2 separate regions of the Homo sapiens genome follow, and region 2 is linked to region 1. The links come from fine-mapping of genetic effects on gene expression. A gene starts in region 1. The other region holds a variant in brackets. All regions are shown on one strand. Distances are from middle to middle. Region 1 holds the start of ST6GALNAC2 (ST6 N-acetylgalactosaminide alpha-2,6-sialyltransferase 2). Region 2 holds the start of SNORD1B (small nucleolar RNA, C/D box 1B).

Region 1 (2,812 bases):
CACCATCCCCGGATAAGTTTTGTATTTTTGGTAGAGACGAGGTTTCGCCATGTTGCCCAGGCTTATATCAAACATGTATTATTTCTTTGCATTGAGATACTTTGTGTTTTAAACATCTTTACATAAAAGTGACAAGGATTCCTTTTCTTTTGAGACAGGGTCTCTCTCTGTCAACCAGGCTGGAATGCAGTAGTGCAATCACAGCTCACAGCCTCGAATTCCTGGCCTCAAGCTATCCTCCCACCTCCGCCTCCCAGAGTGCTGGGACTACAGGCGTTAAGTCACCGTGGCGGGGCAAGCACCCTTTGTTCTAAGAGTGCTGGACTCCTGATCACTGGCAAGCTGTTTCACATTGTTCTGCAACTTTTGGTGTATCCTTTGACAGCATCTGTGGAGACCAGATACTTATTTTGTTTTCATCCCGTTAGCCCCCCAGCAAGGTTGGTAGGGGGTGCGCAGATGGAAAAGCTCCAGGAAGGGAAAGGCTGGGGCTGGAGGCCTCTCCCTGAGGCTGCCGGGCCCTTCCCTCCTCCCAAACCCAGACTTCGCACGGCTTGGTCCGCCTTTCTTAAGCTAAGCGAAATCGTTTTGCGGCTTCTTCAGTCACCGGAACCACCACCTGCTAGAGGCCGGCTCCCAGGTTCTCCTCGTGGGACACCCAGGAAAGTGCCTAGGGAGGAGGAGGGAGTGGAGCGCAGGACGCGGCGCGGGGAGGAGAACGCGGATGGAGCCAGGAGTCACCCCTCTTTCCCTCGGGCGCCCGCCTCTTCGCGGATCGCGCCCGCACTGGGCTTATCCAGACACGGCGAGCGGAAGCCGGGGAGAAGGGAGCGGGCGCGGGGCGGACAGAGACCGCAGCGGGCGGGAAAGGCGACTGGCCGCGGCCCGACGGAGGGTCCCCGCGAAGTTGGAAACCGGAGACTTGGGCCCCTGCCCAAAAAGCAGAATCTGACGTTACCGAGGGAGAGTTCCCGACAAAAAAGGAAGTTTTTATCTGCTTCGGGGACCCAGCCAGATTTCGACAATAGAAAGTGTACTTATCAGGCCGGGGAGGACTTCACCAACAAGGGGCACCGGGGCGGGTCGCCAGTGCACAGGGGCGAGGTCTTCCTTGGACCCAGGCAAAGGCCGCGGGGTCCGGGCAGCGCGAGGTCAAGGCTGGGAGAGGGTTCTGGCGACAAAGGGCCGCGGCCGAGTCCTCGCTGAGAGCTGCCCCAGAGGGGTCCACGCGGAGGTTGGGCTGAGGGCTGCGGGCCGCCGGGGAGCCCTGGGCTGGGGACCCTCCCCGCGCCCTGGTCGCCCCTGCGCCCTCCCGCTCTGCGCTCGGCAGCCCCTACCTGGCTCCGGCCGCTGGCCCCGGGTACCGCTGCACCGCCGAGAAGTACAGGGCAAAGAGGAGCCCCGAGCAGGCAGCCGTGAGCAGGAGCAGCAGCCAGAAGAACGACCCGCGCGGGAGCCCCATACAGCCCCGGCCCGCGAGCGCCCCGTCCGCTGACGTCCCAGGCAGAAGGGAGAGAACCGGGTGGGCCGGGTGGCACTTGCGGAGGCGGCCGTCTTGCCCTGCCCCGCCCTGCCCGCCGGGTGCCTGCGGCGCCTGCCCGCCCGGCAGCTCCCTCTCGGCCCCGGCTGAGTGGCCAGAGGCTGCCGCACCCTCGGGAGCTGGGCGGCGGGTCCCCCGGGGCTGGAGTGTCGTCCCGGCGCCCAGAGCGCGCGCTCCTTTGGCCCTGCCCCCTGCCCGGGGGACTTCGGCAGCGGCCACTCCTGCCACTGCGCTCTCTCCAGAGCCCAGCCCCGGGAGGCCGCCAGTCTCGGGTTGGGCAGGGCGCTTTCCTCGCGCCGTCCGGGGCTAGCTAGGCGCGGGTAGACGCCGCCACCTGCTGCGCTGGCTGCGCTCTGCCCTCTGCGGGCCCGGCACTCGGCCTCTAGACTCTGTGGCGGGTGGGCGGCGGCCGGGAGGAGATGTGCCCGGCTCCCTCCAAAGGACCCTCAGATCTGTCAGTCTGCGGACGCCAGGACAGCTGGGAGGGGGCGGGCAGGGTGGAGGAGCAAAACCCGACAGCTCAGTCTCTGGGCTGGCGGTAGAGGGGGGAAAAGGGGGTGAGGTGGGGAGCTTGCCGTGATGGGTTTCGTGGGGGAGCTAAGGCTGTCAGCGCTTATTTGGTAACCATCCAGGGTGGCCAGTCCCCTCAATCGCATTGAGTTCCTTTCACAGAACGAGGCCAGTCAGAGAGACCACCTGAAATGTTCAGCACAACGGGTTCCCAAACTTATTGGCACCAGGGACTGGTTTCCTGGAAGACAATTTTTCCACGGAGGGGGGTGGGGGTGGGGGGGTTGGGGATGAAACTGTTCCACCTCAGATCATCAGGCATGAGTTAAGATGCTCTCATAAGGAGCCCGCAACCTAGATCCCTGGCATGCGCATTTCACAAAAGGGTTCGCACTCCTTTGAGACTCTAATGCCGAGGCTGATCTGAAGGAGGCGGAGCTCAGGCGGTAATGCTCCTTCCCCCTCCACTCACCTCCTGCTGCGATGCCCTGTTCCTAACAGGTCTCGGACCAGGCTTGGGATTGGGGACCCCTGGTCTAGCAGGCTCCAGCATCAGAAAGGGCTGGGAAGCTCAGCACCCGTGCTCTCTAAGTGGAACACTCCCTGGCAGTGAGTGATGGATGAGATGGGTGTGCTTCAGTGGCCACTGTTCGGCAAGCTGTGACATGCGGCAGGCTGTGACATGCCCCAGACTCCCAACTGTCAGCAGGCTGCAAGGATGAGAGGGACCTAGGCTACCGTGTCACGGGCCTTTGGCTCTAA
Region 2 (2,731 bases), 24 kb before region 1:
TGTTAAAATATACACATTCCTGGGCCTCACCTCCAGGCATGGGTGAGAATGGCTCTGGAGTGGAGTCCAGGAATCATGTGGCCAGTCCAAGAGCAAGTGGGTAGTAACTAGATCAGGGGTGTCAATCTTTTGGCTTCCCTGTGCCACATTGGAAGAATTGTCTTGGGTCACACATAAAATAAACTAACACTAATGATAGCTGATGAGCTAAAAAAAAAAAATCTCATAATATTTTGAGAAAGTTTACAAATTTGTTGGGCTGCATTCAAAGCCGTCCTAAAGTTTACAAATTTGTGTTGGGCTGCATTCAAAGCCGTCCTGAGCCACATGCAGGCTGTGGGTTAGACAAGCTTGAAGTAGATGATCTGATCTGTTTTTAGTGCAAGGATTTTATTATAGTGAGATTATAGTGCTGGCTATTTTTAAGTAGCTCTTGGGCAAATCTCTAATCCTCTGTCTTAAAAAACTGAAAGCCTGGAGGGCACGGTGGCTGACACCTGTAATCCCAGCACTTGGGGAGGCCGAGGCAGGTGGATCATCTGAGGTCGGGAGTTCGAGACCAGCCTGACCAACATGGAGAAACTCCGTCTCTACTAAAAATACAAAATTAGCCTGGCGTGGTGGCGCATGCTTGTAATCCCAACTTACTTGGGAGTCTGAGGCAGGAGAATCACTTGAACCCGGGAGGTGGAGGTTGCAGTGAGCCGAGATCGCGTCATTGCACTCCAGCCTGGGCAACAAGAGTGAAACTACTTTTCAAAAAAAGAAAGTCACATGCTTGCTCCACAAAGAATTTGCGTGAGGGAAGTGAACAATTTGATGAGAAAAAAATAGTTTGCGTGTGCTGTGGCTGTTAGTGCTATGGTCCAGCAGGTTGGTGGGAGCTGAGTCCATGATGATTTCAAGTTATCCCTGTCTGAAGGCAAAGAAAGGCCTTTCTGTGTGGAATTTGAATATCTGAAACTCAGTTTCCCAAGTTTGCCTTACAGAAATTTTAAGTTACTTGAGAGTTACTCTGTGTGTATCTTCTTAAGTAGTTTTTTTTCTTAATTTCTCTTCCCAGGTGCAGTCAGCCTCAGTTTCCAAAGCCGGAAAAGGATCCTCTAGTAGCCACGGTGTGGCAGCTGCTCTGAACCAGGACCTGGACCCGGACCCAAAGTGCCATGTCTTTAATGTGAGTAAGTAGACGAACTGGTAAACAGGCTTGGTTTGGTTTGGGGGAGTGGTAATCTTTTTTGCTTCCCCTGCTCTGGACTTAAAGCAATGGGGGCAGGGAG[A/G]CTTTAGTAGCATTTTGTTGCTAGGTGTCTGCAATAAGAGACGAAACTGAACTGCTTTGCCGGAAACAAGTGAAATGATTGCTTTCCTGTTTGTAAGATTTGTTTACATCTTTCGTATCCGTAAGAAGTCCCACAAGCCTATGATGGTTAGTTATCCCTGTCTGAAAATCTGGACTGAGGGAAATAATCTATTCTGAGGCTTAAGGGTTTGGCTCCATGGTTTTTTTTTTGTTTTTGTTTTTTTTCCCCTTTTTTTTTCCCTCAGCATATCCTGCTGAGAGCCCAGTCTAGAGCATCATTCCTCTAAAACGTGAAAAGCAAATGAGTGATTGTCCTGCTTTCTCTAGTCCTTTGATTATGGCTCTGAGGATACAGGCTGTATGAGGTGGCAGGAATGCACAAGTACCCAGGATTTGATTTATGCCCTTATTGTGGAATGAAAGTGCTTGTTACATATTTCAAGAAAATGAATGCGCTCTTAGAAACAGATTGGAATGTAGGATGTATGCCAGCTTGTGGCAATGAGAATGCTTAATGACTCTGACCTTGCCTCTGCTCCAGGGTCCTGACATTTAGGGGAAACCACGGCTGTTTGGTTTCTATGTGCTTTGTTAAGGACGCCAGGGAGGTCTCCTAAGTTTGTAGCTTAGATCCTGTCTGAATGTCACGACTGGCATGTGAGCAAGAAAGAAACCAAGTGGTGCTGGAGAGTGGGGTGCCCAGCTTTGTTCCCACTGGAATGCCAGGCTTGAAGTGCACACAGATTGCCTTTCTTTTCTGTTGAAAGGGGAGGTGTGGGCCGGGCGCGGTGGCTCACGCCTGTAATCCCAGCACTTTGGGAGGCCGAGGCGGGTGGATCATGAGGTCAGGAGATCGAGACCATCCTGGCTAACAAGGTGAAACCCCGTCTCTACTAAAAATACAAAAAAATTAGCCGGGCGCGGTGGCGGGCGCCTGTAGTCCCAGCTACTCGGGAGGCTGAGGCAGGAGAATGGCGTGAACCCGGGAAGCGGAGCTTGCAGTGAGCCGAGATTGCGCCACTGCAGTCCGCAGTCCTGCCTGGGTGACAGAGCGAGACTCCGTCTCAAAAAAAAAAAAAAAAAAAAGAAAGGGGAGGTGTGTGCAAACTCTTTGTATTTAAGGTTGTGTTTTTGCTGGACACCAAAGAAGCTGTATTCTGGGTGAGATTTAATGAGCCTAAAAACTGGCCCCAGTAGTTTACAGCCTGCAAGTAAAACAGTGAAAAGGGTAGCTTATCAAGTGGTTATTGTCTGCTGAGTGGACTTGACTACAGAACTCAAGTAAACCATAAGATTTGACTTGAAATGTTTCTATCCAGAGGGAGTGCTTTCTGATAGTTGTTTACTGGCCTCTTACCAGAAACTGCTCCCTCAGAGATACTGTCTCCTTAAAATGAGTCATCCTGGATCTCCACCAGCCTGCACCAAAATGGT

Evidence for each region. PIP is the estimated chance that this variant, and not a neighbour inherited with it, causes the effect.
Region 2: its variant is fine-mapped to the expression of ST6GALNAC2 in whole blood (TOPMed, PIP above 0.99).

Annotation. Positions count from the first base shown.
Region 1 is chr17:76,584,347-76,587,158 of GRCh38, forward strand. ST6GALNAC2 (ST6 N-acetylgalactosaminide alpha-2,6-sialyltransferase 2) reads right to left here and starts at 1,514. Exons shown (of 9, transcript NM_006456.3): 1 at 1,338-1,514. The coding sequence starts at 1,462. RefSeq lists silencers at 1,271-1,610, 1,661-1,950 and enhancers at 1,819-2,500, 2,501-2,812.
Region 2 is chr17:76,560,225-76,562,955 of GRCh38, forward strand. It overlaps SNHG16 (small nucleolar RNA host gene 16), which reads left to right. Exons shown (of 3, transcript NR_038111.1): 2 at 1,064-1,174. SNORD1B (small nucleolar RNA, C/D box 1B) reads left to right here and starts at 884; the gene lies at 884-969. SNORD1A (small nucleolar RNA, C/D box 1A) reads left to right here and starts at 1,409; the gene lies at 1,409-1,482. The variant A/G (reference allele first, on the strand shown) is at 1,278.